Linked DNA regions of Homo sapiens. The protein of the gene in region 1 purifies or fractionates together with the protein of each later gene. This does not show direct contact. Each region holds a gene or a part of one and is shown in the gene's direction. Other genes may lie near its edges.

Evidence for each region.
Region 2: the proteins of PLEKHA2 (region 1) and FERMT3 purify together in Homo sapiens (affinity purification with mass spectrometry, with the first as the bait; one large-scale study listed by BioGRID). This does not show direct contact.
Region 3: the proteins of PLEKHA2 (region 1) and PRPSAP2 purify together in Homo sapiens (affinity purification with mass spectrometry, with the first as the bait; one large-scale study listed by BioGRID). This does not show direct contact.
Region 4: the proteins of PLEKHA2 (region 1) and RFTN1 purify together in Homo sapiens (affinity purification with mass spectrometry, with the first as the bait; one large-scale study listed by BioGRID). This does not show direct contact.

The regions. Positions count from the first base shown.
Region 1 is NC_000008.11:38,946,346-38,949,845, forward strand, and holds part of PLEKHA2 (pleckstrin homology domain-containing family A member 2), read left to right. Parts: intron 1-3,500. UniProt on the Homo sapiens protein: Binds specifically to phosphatidylinositol 3,4-diphosphate (PtdIns3,4P2), but not to other phosphoinositides. May recruit other proteins to the plasma membrane.
Region 2 is NC_000011.10:64,205,332-64,209,520, forward strand, and holds the start of FERMT3 (fermitin family homolog 3 short isoform), read left to right. Parts: upstream 1-1,389; 5' UTR 1,390-1,483; intron 1,484-1,538; exon of another isoform or gene 1,539-1,664; intron 1,665-2,019; 5' UTR 2,020-2,033; coding exon 2,034-2,193; intron 2,194-2,374; exon of another isoform or gene 2,375-2,575; intron 2,576-4,189. UniProt on the Homo sapiens protein: Plays a central role in cell adhesion in hematopoietic cells. Acts by activating the integrin beta-1-3 (ITGB1, ITGB2 and ITGB3). Required for integrin-mediated platelet adhesion and leukocyte adhesion to endothelial cells.
Region 3 is NC_000017.11:18,924,131-18,927,630, forward strand, and holds part of PRPSAP2 (phosphoribosyl pyrophosphate synthase-associated protein 2), read left to right. Parts: intron 1-3,500. UniProt on the Homo sapiens protein: Seems to play a negative regulatory role in 5-phosphoribose 1-diphosphate synthesis.
Region 4 is NC_000003.12:16,318,523-16,321,699, reverse strand, and holds part of RFTN1 (raftlin), read left to right. Parts: exon of another isoform or gene 1-2,239; intron 2,240-3,177. UniProt on the Homo sapiens protein: Involved in protein trafficking via association with clathrin and AP2 complex.

The DNA.
Region 1 (3,500 bases):
AGTTCTCTCCCACCTCGTCTTTTTCCTTGGCTGACCAAACACAAGTTGAACTGAGAGTCTGAGTTTGAATCAAGTTCAAGGGGAAGTTCATGGAGCGTCCCCTTTGTGCTTCCTGGGAGGGCTCCCGATCAGTCATGTTTCGGGTGATTCTGGGATGCTGATTCAGAATGTGGTAGGATTGGAAAATGGATTGGTGACTGTGAAAAGTCAAGTAAGGGGAAAAGCATATGGGGAGGGAAGTCAGAACTTTTTCCCAGCTTGGGGGATACTCTTCTTACTTTCAGAGGCTGCCTGCAGGGTCAGTCCAAGCCATCCGCCTCCCTGTCCTAGAAAAGCCTTCTGTTTAAAAGCATCACAGAGCTCGTTCATGGACTGTCCTACGAGTGTGCTCTTTTTCCTTGAGTTGGCTAATGAAGAATTCCTTTCTTTTTCCTTAGAGATATAGAAAAAGAAAGGAAGAAGGGTAGGAAGGATGGAGAGGGGAAACTATGTTTTGGAAAAAACTAGACTTTTAATCAATAAGACAGGCAGACTCCTGGCTTATATAGATCATGGCTTCTTTGCTGAAAAGTTTGTTTCTGTATCATACAGTCAGAAATGCTTATGTTTGAGGGGCTTCCAGTAGTGACTATTACATGCTGCAGCAAATTATCCTCCCAGATTTCTCAGGGTTCCTGTGAACAACTGTATAGAAGAAATTTGTACACGTATATAGTATTCATATTGCTAGACCCAACCTGAGTGTAATTGAGTCTCCTATAAGCACTTTTGCTGATTAGCTTCTTATTCTGATAAACCTTGGTAAACCCGTGAAAAGAGAGAGTGATGAAAAGAGAGAGGATGGATGGCTGGGTGCAGTGGCTCACGCTTGTAATTCCAGCACTTTGGGAGGCCGAGGTGGGTGGATCACCTGTGGCCAACATAGTGAAACCCCGTCTCTACTAAAAATACAAAATTAGCTGGGCGTGGTGGCACACGCCTGTAGTCCCAGCTACTCAGGAGGCTGAGGCAGGAGAATCACTTGAACCTGGGAGGCAGAGGTTGCAGTGAGCCGAGATCGTGCCATTGCATTCCAGCCTGGGCGACAAGAGTGAAACTCCACCTCAAAAAAAATAAAAAATAAAAAAATTAGCCAGGCCTGGTGGCTTACACCTGTATTCCCAGCTACTTAGGAGGCTGAGGCAGGAGGATCACTTGAGCCCAGAAGTTTGAGGCTGCAGGGAGTTATGATCGCACCACTGTACTTCAGCCTAGGCAACAGAGTGAAAGCCCATCTCTTAAAGAAGTCTCAGGTAGTGTAAACAGCTTTGGAAAGGCTCTGCATGTTGATCTGAAGCACTGCATGACACCGGAGCATAAGCACTGACAAACAGTGTTCTTCGGGATTTTGAGAGGAAACACAGCAGCCAAGCTTCTGTGCCTCCTTTTCTGGCCACTGGGAACTCTAAAAAGTTACTTTCTGGCCAGGCGCGGTGGCTCACGCCTGTAATCCCAGCACTTTGGGAGGCTGAGGCGGGTGGATCACAAGGTCAGGAGTTCGAGACCAGCCTGGCTAACATGGTGAAACCCCGTCTCTACTAAAAATATAAAAACTAGCTGGGCATGTTGGCATGCACCGTAATCCCAGCTACTTGGGAGGCTGAGGCAGGAGAATCACTTGAACCCAGGAGCTGGAGATTGCAGTGAGCCGAGATCGCGCCACTGCACTCCAGCCTGGGCGACAGAGCAAGACTCCATCTCAAAAAAAAAAAAAAAAAAATTGTTATTTCCCTCCTTCTTTGCTGGGTTTCAGGAATTCATCTGGGTCATTTAGGGGAAATTTCTGCAGTTCCATGGTGATTTTAATCACTAAATATCAACTAAAAATCAACATCCCTAAAAATGTGGTTACATAATAACAGAACTCACAGAAAGTGAGAAAGAGTAGCTTAGGTAGGTCGTGACATGCAGCAACAAGGAGTCAGGCAGTCCTAGAGCCAAATCACTTAATTTTAATGAGCTTGAGTTGACCTCATCTATAAAGTGGAGAAAATCATGCCTGGTTGATAAGATTAGTGATAATGCAGCAAAGAGCTTATCAGTGCATTGCCTGGCACTGAATGGTGGCCCAGAGAAACTGTAACTGCTGGTATCTCTCAGCCAGAAAGAAAATAGAAGGCGGAATTTCTGGCCTGATTTGGAGGGGTAGGGAGGGGGCAGAGGACGTCCTTGTCTATGTAAACTGAGTGTGCAGTCCAGGAAGAGAAGGTCTCGTTGTCTTTGTGGGGGCCCAGCATAATCAGGGTGCTCTTATTGTTTTGAACAGACACCAAATGACAGGGCTGTCATATAGCTCTGAGCTCGGATCCTTAGGTCTTTCTTACTCTGAAAGCTGTAGAAGTGGGAGAGGACCTTAGCTTTTCTCTCGAAGTCCCGGTGACGTCCCGGCAGATAGATGTAGGGTGTTGCGTTCTCCTGAAGGTGGGGCATTGTGATGCTGGGGCACTGGTGGGAAGTCAGAGTTTAGTAGACATTCAGCTGTTTTTTTGTTTTGTTTTTGTTTTGAAACGGAGTCTCGCTCTATAGCCCAGGCTGGAGTGCAATGGCGTGATCTCGGCTCACTGCAACCTCTGCCTTCTGGGTTCAAGCGATTCTCCTGCCTCAGCCTCCTGAGTAGCTGGGGTTACAGGTGCCCGCCACTACGCCCAGCTAATTTTTGTATTTTTAGTAGAGACGGAATTTCACTATATTGGTCAGGCTAGTCTCGAACTCCCGACCTCAGGTGATCCGCCCGCCTCGGCCTCCCAAAGTGCTGGGATTATAGGCATGAGCCACTGTGCCTGGCCGACATTCAGCTGTTAATCCTGGCTTTGGGTAAATGACTCAACTGTTCTGGACCTCTTTTTTTTTTTTTCTTTCTAACAAAATGAAAGATTTCCTCAGCATTTGCAGACTCTAGTATAAATGAGTGAAGTGGGCAAGGAGGAGGAAACAGGGCAACAGGAATGAGGATAAGTGACATTTGACCCCTGGCCTCTCCCGTTCTGCTGGGGAGAATGGTAGGGACTGTGCAAACACAATGTATTTTCTATCTAAAAGGGAACTGCTGCATAGCTGAAAATCTGGATTTTTCTGTGAAATATCCCAAAACTTAGATGCAGATTTTAAAAAATACTGCATGTGACTAACAAAACATTGTTTGGGCAAAGTCAGTGGGTGGGCCACCAATTTGCAACCTCTGGCCTGTGATTTCCAACTAACAATAAAAATTTTATGATGATTTGATCAGCTGTGGTACCATATCTCTGTCAAGGAAGAGCAAAGATAGCTCATTCTTCCAAAAGGGCTCTGTGTATAATTATTAGTAACAACGTGGGAAGCCTTAATTATAATATTTTGTAATATGTTTTTCTTTTTAGTTGTGTTTCTAAAGCATTTAATATACTCTATCATTTGATAACCACAACGATGGTTATGATAAATATTATTCCACTTTTCATTTTATGCATGAGACGGTTTAG
Region 2 (4,189 bases), on another chromosome or scaffold:
TTCTCCTGCCTCAGTCTCCCGAGTAGCTGGGACTACAGGCGCCCGCCACCACGCCCGGCTAATTTTTTGTTTGTTTGTTTGTTTGTATTTTTAGTAGAGACGGGGTTTCACCGTGTTAGCCAGGATGGTCTCAATCTCCTGACCTCGTGATCCACCCGCCTGGACTTCCCAAAGTGCTGGGGTTAACAGGCGTGAGCCACCGCGCCCGGCCTGGGTGATGGTTTTAATGCACGGCTCTTACCTGAGAACTTAGGGTGCTAAGCTTTAATTACACTTTTCCATGGTTGCAACAAGCTGCGTTTTCTAAAGCTCTCTTCCTGGACTGGGGAGGCCTTTGGGGCAGGAGTAAAACTTCCTCATTTGCTCCAAGAGTGCTGCTTTCTGGGCTAGGAAGGCGCTGAGACTAGCAGCTGGCTGGACTTCCTGCTGTTAGTTTCATCAGCTTTCTTTTCCCCTGGGAATCCCCGGCAGGCCGCCCCCTTCCCCATCTGAGTGGCGATGCTCAGGTAGCCTCCCCCATTGGCAGGACTCTGCCGCCCCCAGGCTTGCCCACCCTGCATGCTCCAACCCCAGTGTGTTCACTGGAAAGGCCGCTGTCCTGCGCAGAGCTGGTGGCGGACGTGCCTTGCTCTACTGAAGTCCACATCCTAGGGCAGGTGATGAGCAGGAGGGTATAGACCACCAGAGACCCCTGAGGTGTCACCTAAGCAGGGACTTGATGGGAGTGAGCCTCGTGGGGACTCGGGGAGGCTCATCCAAGTGGAGCACAGTGGAGGGGTCGTGTTTGGAGCTGGGTGACCTGAGGGCCCGGGAGGTTGTGGATGGTCTGGGCCAAGTACTGTTCACTTGTTCACCTGGCAGGTCTGAGTTCATGAGTTTGAAGGTAGCCCTACGCGGAGCTAGGAAAAACTGCAAAATGGACTTGTTTCCCTCTGGGGCCTTGAGGGATCCTTGGTTGATAGGGATAGCCAGGCTGGAGCCGATTTAACCTGTGAGTCCCAAATAACCTGGATACACTCTGTCGACTCCTGGGCTCTCCCTCCGGCAGCCCAGTGATGTTTCAAAGCCCAAGGTCCCCACCTCATGTGACAGGCTGAGGATGGCAGACACTTCCCACAAAAGTGGACCTAGCCCTGAACACACACAGCCGGGGGACTTGTTGAGTTTGCACTGAGCTTCCCTCCAAATGAGGAAGGGGGCGTTTTTATGGTGTTGAGTCGCTAAGCCCCGCTCTCCCTAGCTTCCTGTGCTCTCTGGGGACAAAGGTGGGGGGGCCCCTGGAACCCTCTGTGGGCTGGCAGTGTGCTTCCTGCACCCAGCGCCAGCCCGCCCTGGGGAGGGGCTGAACCCGCCCTGCTCGTGATAAGGCACAAGCAAGGGCTGCCCTGAAGGAAGCTCCAAAGAGAAAGGAGGGCAGGAAGCCCACGGCCCACAGGGGTGTAGCCCGAGACCCACCTGCAGCCCCCAGCCCTTGCCAGGAAAGGTAAGCTCAGGCCTCACTGGGACCCTGGGCCCTTCTCTTCCTTATCCTCCTGCAGCCTCTGCCCAGCCTGCCTCTCGCCATGCGGCAGCCTGAACTTTCCACCTCCCCGGAGAGGCTTTGGCTGGTTTGTGATGTTGGCATCTGAGCTGTGGGCCAGGATCGGAACTACTTCCTGGCCTGGGTACGAAGCCATGGCCAGAGTGGGCAGCTGCCCCTGAGGGTCTGGGAGTGAGCTGTGGGCTGGCATTGAGCACGGTGGTCCTGAGTGAGCCCCTTCTTACCCGGCCTCAGTCTGCCCGCCTGTAGGATGGGAGCGGATTGGACTACATGGTCTCTGAGGGCCCTCGCGGCTCAAGCGCCAGCGCTGGAGAGAGAGTCTGAGGGTACCACGGGCGTGCTGGCCTGGGTGCTCACTCCCGCCCTCCTTCATGAGCGGCTTTCCTCTGGGTGTGTCCAGGGCATCACAGAGCTCTTCTGCCCAAACCCGGAGGCCTACCAGGGCCTGCCCACCTTGCCTCCTTCCACACTCTCTGTAGCAGCAGCCGCAGCCATGGCGGGGATGAAGACAGCCTCCGGGGACTACATCGACTCGTCATGGGAGCTGCGGGTGTTTGTGGGAGAGGAGGACCCAGAGGCCGAGTCGGTCACCCTGCGGGTCACTGGGGAGTCGCACATCGGCGGGGTGCTCCTGAAGATTGTGGAGCAGATCAGTGAGTGTCCGCTGCCCGCTTGCTGAACTCGGCACCATGGGCGGCCGCCACGGGTGTCTCTGGGCACTTCCGGGCCATCCCTGCTGCTCAGCTCCCGATAATGGTGTCACGGTGACTCAGGCATTAGCTTAATCATTTGGTTCCAAAAAAGACATTTCCCCAACTTCCTCTCCCTCCCACCCTCTTCCCTCCCTCCCTTCTGCTGCAGCTGGTCTGCTAAGGATCAGACGCAGCCACAATCCTCCATTCAGCCACCAATAGGGGCAGAAGGAGTGGTCTTGTCTGGGCCGAGGCTGAAGTCACATTGCTGAGGTCTGAGGGGGTCTAGGTGACCCAGGGGCCTGCCCCCACGCTCCCTCCCCTTGGCGGAAGCTTTGAGCAGGTTGGTGACAGGCCCAGCCTGGGTGGGAAGGCCCTGCCCCCACAGGAAGTTACAGCAGAGCAGCTGTGGTATCAGTCATGGAGGACCACGGGGCTAGTGACACGGGGGCTCCTCATCTTCCTTCCCTGCCGGGGGTGGGGGCTACCCCTTCCTGAGAGAGCAGCAGGAAGACCCCGATAGGCAGAGCCGGAAGACAGGCCCACCACAGTCCCGGCCAAGAGCCTGGGCCTGGGCTGCCAGTGGGTGGGGGGTGGGTGATGGTGGGGAGGCTTCCTCAGACCCCGCCAGGCCACCATGTGCAGCACAGGAGGAGGTCAGTCCGACTGTGGAGAGGATAGGGTCCAGAACGGCCCGGCCACAAGACTGAGGCTGTGAGGGGAGCTGCCAGGGGCAGGGCCCGGAGCAGCTGTGAGAATAGAAGTGAGGAACAGAGAGAGGGTGGTGAAGACCTGGGTGGCCCCAGGGCACGGCATGAGGGTAACGCAGGAGGCCTTAACCTGGAGTCAGACAGACCCCGCTGCTCTACCCGCTGCTGGGCACCCCAGGGCAAGTTCCTTTAGCTCTGTGTTCCCTGTGGTGGGGATACTGTCACTCCTAAGCACATCAGCTCTGTCTACTGATGCTCAGCCTGGCCGCCCCGGGCCAGTCCCTGGCCTCCTGGAGCAGCAGCGGGTGAGACTGACCCATGGGGGCTGCGTGCCGGCTGCCGCACAGAGGGCGCTATCATGGGGGCCTGGAGCCAGAGGAGGGGGCTGCCCCGAGCCCAGGATGGGGATAACCCCAGGAGAAGTCCTGAGAGGTGGCCTCAGCAGGGAGGAGCAAGGTGGTGGCGCTGGGACTCGGAGGGCTGTGAATTAGGGCTCTCGGCTGGTGAGGATGCTGGGAGCGTGACCAGAAATGAGGCTGGCTGGTGCCTGGCCAGCTCTGCATGGCCCCGAAGGCCTCCAGAAGGGGTCTAGACTTTCTTCTGGAGGGGAAGGTGGCCACCGAAGGGTTCTCAGCAGGAGGCTGTCCTGCTAAGGTCAGCAGCAAGGCGAAAGGCTGGTGGCGGCAGGCCCCTGAGGAGGCTGTGGTCCTGGTTAGAGACACCAGGGCCTCCTAAGGCCGGGCAGGGAGGATGGAGAGGAGGGTGGATTTTAGAGGTGGGATTGGCATTGATTACATGTGGTGGCTAGAAGAGAAAGGGAGGATGCCTGGGCCTTTGGCGCGAGTCCGTGTCCCCCAGCCCTGAGAGGTGGTGTAGGGAGCTGGTGAGGAGGGGGAGCTGGCTAGGAGAGGGCACCTCTGTGCACAGCGAGTCTGAGCTGAGCTCCAAAAGCCGAGACCAGGAGTCATGGTGCTTACAGTCCCAGTGTCAGCCACTCGGCCACAGGAACAGAGGGTTCTGGAAAGGAGGAAGCCGGTGGACAGGCCCCTCAGCTGGCAGCACATGGGTTTCTGGCTGGGGGCCCAGGGCAGGGTCTGGGCCGAGGGCCACGCATGGGGAGGCAGCAGAAAATGGCAACTGAAACCACAGAATAGGGAGACCCAGTAAGGGGACCTGGCCGAGGCAGGAGAAGAGGGTCCCAGGCCGAACCTGGGGAAAGGACAAGGTAAGGGGCCGGTCAGGAGAGG
Region 3 (3,500 bases), on another chromosome or scaffold:
CCAGGTTCAAACGATTCTCCTGCCTCAGCCTCCCAAGTAGCTGGAATTACAGGTGCCTGCTACCACGCCTGGCTAATTTTTGTATTTTTAGTAGAGATGGGGTTTCACCATGTTGGCCAGGCTGGTCTCAAGCTCCTGAACTTAAGTGATCCACCTGCCTCGGCCTCCCAAAGTGTTGGGATTACAGGCGTGAGCCACTGCACCTGGCCAATTTATTTGTTAATTCTGGGCATATAAAGGCCTAAGGATAGTAGTATGGCCAGATAATTCTTATTAAATTTGTGCCTTGTGCTAAATGTTTGCTTTGGCCCAGAAATTGGAAAATGCTATTGTTTATTTTAAAATTGCTCACTACTGGCTGGGCGCGTTGGCTCATGCCTGTAATCCCAGCACTTTGGGACGCCAAGGCAGGCCAATCGCTTGGGCTCAGGAGTTCAAGACCAGCTTGGACAACATGGTGAAACCCTGTCTCTACAAAAAATACAAAAATTAGCTGAACTTGGTGGCACATACCTGCAGTCCCAGCTACTTGAGAGGCTGAGGCGGGAGGATCACTTGAGCCTGGGGCTCAGAGGTTGCAGTGAGCCGAGATCATGCCACTGCACTCCAGCCTGGGTGACAGGGTGAGGCTGTGTCTCAAAAAAAAAAAAAAAAAAAGTCATCCTGTCATAACATGAGATATTGTTCTGTGATCAAAGTAAAGTACAAGCTGGGCACAGTGGCTCATGCCTATAATCCCAGCACTTTGGGAGGCCAAGGCAGGCAGATCACCTGAGGTCAGGAGTTGAAGACCAGCCTGGCCAACATGGTGAAACCCCATCTCTACTGAAAATACAAAAATTAGCTGGACATGTTGGCGCACACCTGTAATCCCAGCTACTTGGGAGGCTGATCTTGGAGAATCGCTTGAATCTGGGAGGCGGAGGTTGCAGTGAGCCAAGATTGTGCCACTGCACTCTAGCCTGGGCGAAAGAGTGAGATTCCATCTCAAAAGAAAAAAAAAAAGTAAACTACAAAGTTGATTATAACTGTTTGAAACATGCATCCTTTCACACATCATAAGACCAGTGCACAAAAAGAGTGCACTTCATGCCTGTATATTTTAAAGAATAGAATGAACACTGGGTACCCGCTAGCTCACTTGAGGCATAGATCATCACCAGGTACCTAGAGGCCTCCTCTGGGCTTACCCTGGTCTCTTTGCCTCAGAGGTTGTCACTGATGTGAAAGCTGCCCATCTTGATCCTGTAGTCAGCCATGAGGGCTTGTGGCCTTAAATGCTGCCTTTTTTTCTTGTCTTTGATGTTTATGTAAATGATGTCTTTGTGTACTTTGGGACTTTCTTGCTCAACACTGTTATTGAAATTTACCTGTGTAGTGGCAGGAAGTTGTACTTCATTCTTTTTCACTGCTATGTGTTGTGTCTTTGGTATAACTGCTACACAACTGATTGAGGCAATGGTACTGCTTTGAACATCCTCGTGCCTATTTTCTGGTGCAAAAGTGTGAGAGTTTCAAGGTGCCTGGGAGTGGGGTTGTTGGGTCTGAAGGTATGCACATTTTTAACTTTACAAGGTGCTGCCAAATTGTTTCCAAAGTGGTCACACCCATTTCCCAAGTTCCATAGTGGGTGCCCCACATTATCCCCAGTGCTTGATAATTTTGTACGCACCCTTTTCAGGTTAGAAAATCTCTCTGGGGCCGGGCACGGTGGCTCACTTCTGTAATCCCAGCACTTTGGGAGGCCGAGACGGGTGTAGGTCAGGAGATCGAGACCATCCTGGCTAACACGGTGAAACCTTGTCTCTACTAAAAATACAAAAAATTAGCCGGGCGTAGTGGTGGGCTCCTGTAGTCCCAGCTACTCGGGAGGCTGAGGCAGGAGATGGCATGAGAGGCGGAGCTTGCAGTGAGCCGAGATCGTGCCACTGCACTCCAGCCCAGGCGACTGAGCAAGACTCTGTCTCAAAAAAAAAATAAGAAAATCTCTCACGTCACCCTCCAGGGTAATAGCTGTCCATTACTTATTCCTTAGTTGGCAAAGTCTATAGTAACAAGGTGCTGTGGATTCAGTAGCACCTTTCCCCCCGTTCTAGTGCCACTGCATTATTTATTTATTTATTTATTTATTTATTTATTTCTATTTTTTTTTTTGAGACAAAGTCTCGCTCTGTCACCCAGGCTGGAGTGCAGTGGCGTGATCTCAGCTCACTGCAACCTCCACCTCCTGGGTTCCAGCAATTCTCCTGCCTCAGCCTCCCAAGTAGCTGGGACTACAGGTGCACGCCACCACGTCCGGCTAATTTTTGTATTTTTTTTGTAGAGACGGGGTTTCACCATATTCACCAGGCTGGTTTCGAACTCCTGACCTCGTGATCTGCCCGCCTTGGCCTCCCAAAGTGCTGGGATTACAGGCGCAAGCCACTGCACCCAGCCGCCAGTGCATTTTTTAAAAAAACGTTTTTATTTTGAAGTAATTATAGATCCACAGGAAGTAGGGGGCAATACACAGGGACATCCTGTGTATTCATTACCCAGCATCCTCCATCTTGCTTAACTATAGTACAATAACACAGACTGAAAATTCTCGGTGCCACAGCCACAGAGGTCCTTCAGACAGCACCAGTTGTGCATGTAGTGAGTGTGAGTGTGTGTGTGTGTGTGTGTGTGTGTTTGTGTTTGTGAATGCAGTCTTACCATGGGTAGCTTTGTGGAACCACCACCACAGTCAGGACACAGAATTGCTCCTTCACTGCAAGGCACCCTCATGCTTCCTTTCATAGCTACACTGACATCCTTCCCACCCAATCTGCAACCCCTTGTGTCTTTGTCCACTTTGTGCTGCTGTAACACCTGAGACTAGGTTGTTTATAAAGAATAGAAGAAATTTATTCTCTAACAGCTCTAGAGGCTGTAAGTCCAAATCATGGCACCAGCATTTGGTCTGGTGAGGGCCTTCTTGCTGTGTCCTCACATGGCATAAGGCAGAAGGACAAAAAGGAATGAACTTTCCTTCAGAAGGCCAGGAAAGAGGTTAACCCACTCCCACAAGCCTTTTTATAGCGACATGAATTCATTCCTGATGGTGGATCCCTCACAACCTAAACACTTTCCCAAAGACCCCACCACCCAACACTGTTGCACTGGGGAATAAGTTTCCAACACATGAATTTTGGAGGGACAAAAACATTCAAGCCACAGCACTGGCAACCACTGATCTGTCCCCTGTCTTTCTAATTATTATTTCAAGAATGTCATATAAATGGAATCTATGGTATATAACCTTTTGAGTTTTGTTTAACCTACCATGATTCCCCTGAGATCCATCCAGGTTGTTTTGTATATTAATATGTTATTCCTTTTTATTGCTGGGCAGTATCCCATGGTATAGAGGTACCAGAGTTTATTTGTTGAAGGACATTTGGATGATTTCCAGGTTGGGGCTATTATACATAAAACTCGCTATGTACATTCATGTATAGGTTTTTGTGTGAACAGAG
Region 4 (3,177 bases), on another chromosome or scaffold:
ACCTAATTATTTCCTGCCTCATTCCAAGACTGTAGGTGACTGGTGTGGAGCACTTGTTCTACACAAGACCCTCTGGGTCACCTCACAGATGGGAGTCCTCCAGAGAGGGGGGCTTCACAGCCAGACTCCTTGGAAGAATCTTCTGCACTGGGTGTCCCCTCCTCACTCCTCAGCTGACAAGGGTCAGCGTCCTACTCCCACAGGCCTGTGTCCCCTGGTGACCGAGAGTCACTCCATCTAGTCCTCATCATGCCTGAGCTCTTGCAGCCCGGATGTTGGGACCACCCCCACTCCCTGAAGCAGCTTTTCTCTTGGTTCTTTCCCACCTCATTCTCCTGGTTTCCCACTAAGTTCCTCAGGGTTCAGACCCAGCCCCATTTCTCCCTTCACTCTTGCCTCTTCCTTAGAAAATCTCCTTCACCACCTCTGTGCCAATGACCATTCCGCCTGCATTTTCAGCCCTCACTGCACCCCAAGACTCCAGCTCCATCCATCCTGTGGCTCGAGGAAACCTATGACTGTCCCCCTCCCCATACCTCGCCCACCTGGCCAACCGCCACCCTATCTAGAGGAATGGCATTGCACCTTAGGGGCTATCCCTGCTGACCCTCCCCTCTCCTTCCCCTATATTCAATCTATCCTTAAGACCCATCTGTGTTAGGTCCCGGAGGCTCTGGAATCCCTCCACTTCTCTCTACCATCACTCGCCTCAGCTATTCTAATCTCCTAATAATAGATATCCCCTTCAAATAGGTTCCCTATTCAGAGCCCAAGTGATCTGTTAAAAAGGGAACTTGAATCCTGTCATCCCACTGCTCAAAGGAGTTCTAGTTTTGTATGACTCTGAAGACAAAGATGGAAATCAGTACTGTGGCCCTCAAGGCCCCAAGGGATCTGGTCCCTCTTACCTCCTCTGCCAGCCTCCCATTCTCTGTGGCCTCCAGCTCCTCTGTGGCCTCCAGTTCTTCCGTGTCCCCTCTGCCAAGGACATTCTCCTCCTTTCTAGCTCTACTCGAGCATCCTTTTCTCAGAACAGTGCTGTCTCCTTTTATACCAAACCAGACTCCTTTGTACTACCCTGGAAAAGAACCACGTTCTTCTCCTTCAGAGCTCTCCTTTGGGCTTTTAGTTATTTGTGATCATTATTTTATCCTTCCCAGGCAGAGTCAGACATAGTCTCCACAAGAGCAAAGACCTTTTTCCTGTGTTGTGTACCCAGATTTTAGTTGGTGCTCAACAGATACTTGTCGAATCAATGAATGAGTAATCAGCTTCTTAGCGAGGACACACATAGTATGTCTAGCATTAAAACTTAAGAAAAGAAACTGCAAGATTGGCACACCGAGGATGTGGCATATTTAGTCTTCTTTTAATCAGCAACATGGATAGATTTTTCTAATCAGGACTTTTCAGCATTGGAAAGAAACCTCTGTGTACGTGCGTGTGATTTTCAAGGCAAATATTAAACTTCTTCAAAGGGAGTAGGTGATTTCTACAACTCGGGAAGACTTCCTTCCAGCTAAACTACTTGAAGTGGACACATCATGGGCAGTTTTTAAAATGTGCAAATTAAATCCATTGGCTCCTGCTGACATGGAACTCTGGACACACACTGCTGTAAAGTGAAGGATTTCTTTTTTTCTTTTAGACAGTTATTTCTGAATTGGGCGGCTAATTGGATTTGGTGACACACCCAACTGCCACAGATGCTCTGGCTTGGGAAGGCCCCCAACTCAGTGCAACCTGTTTTATCTGCGGCTTGCTGGTTAAGCTCAGAGACTCCCCCGGTCCTACTCAAAACCTGGAGTCCATTCCCCAGGCTGGACTTGCCTGCCTTTAAGTGGTGTGGATGTCAGAGCTCACCTCAGAGGCTCAACTGAAATCTGGCACAGTCCAGGCCTCCTCTTGCTTTCTGAGACGTCTCCTTTTTGAATTGTTGGGATCTGAAACAGTTTTTGTTGTTTGTTTTCTACCATTTGTGTTCTCGTTTTGTATTATATCAGCAGATCAACAAGATGTGATCTTCTACAGGAAACTGGATGTGGCCAGGCATCCAGGGGAAACTATGGAAGCTCTGTTATTTAGCAAGAGCAGCCCCGGAGAGAGTATCTGGGCTCATATTAGATGGAAGGTCTAGCACGTGGTGGAATTGTCCTCAGTTGTACACTGCACAACAGCAGAGGGCGCTATTCACATCAAATACAATATGAATGGGGCCCTGGAGGTGTGCACCGCAGCCCTGGAGGTAGAGACAACCATTTTAGAGATGAGTAACTTGAAACTCAGATTCATAACCTGCCTAAAGACTGACAGCTAATGAGTGCCAGCACTAGGATTTGAACCCATACTATAATGCTTTGACATTTTAGCACTTAAGGCCTCTTAGCCAAAACAATCACCACTTTTTTGGCAACAGTAAAACTTCCTCTGACTTCCCTGAGAGCCAACTGCCTCTCGGAGTACTATACTACACAGGTAGGCTTCACTGGTCCTTTTCTAAAAACACGTAAAATGATATAAAATGTGAAGAGGCTCTGACTGTTTTGGAACATCCATTAAAAAAAAGGAGAGACTCTTACATTTGGGCTGGAATTAAAATGCAACGGCAGCTGCCTAACACAGGGCAGCAGTTACGAACCATAACACGGTGCCTGGAAACTATGGAGGCTTGGTGGAGGCAGCCACGGTCATGCTGAGGGCTAAAATCAGGGGCCTCCTCTGGTGGGTTTGGAGCCTCGAGATGCCTGCCTGGCAGGCTCGGCTTAAGTAGGAGGTGGGTCTGAGACACCACTTAGCCTACAGAGTGATTCCATTATTGGGATCCTCACAGTTTGGGTGGAAGAAGCTCCACCCATCTCCTAAGGGAAGTCTGTCAGCTACAGTACGAGACATTTCAAAAGAAGTCAAAGGAGAAACCCATCCAACATTGTAAGTGAACTCATTTGGGTTTTTTGGGGGATACAGGGTGGGAAAGGACCAGATAAATGTTAAATCCTAACCTCAACATGTATTTCACTCATGTTTCTCTACTTTAATGGAACATTCCATTACCATTCTTATCTAAAAGGTGCTAAATCCAAGAATCCTATAATGTATTAAATCTCAGAATTCTGTGTTTGGGCAAATGTTTTATCTGAGGAAACAGATCTCTACCGTGGAAAACTACAAAAATGGCAG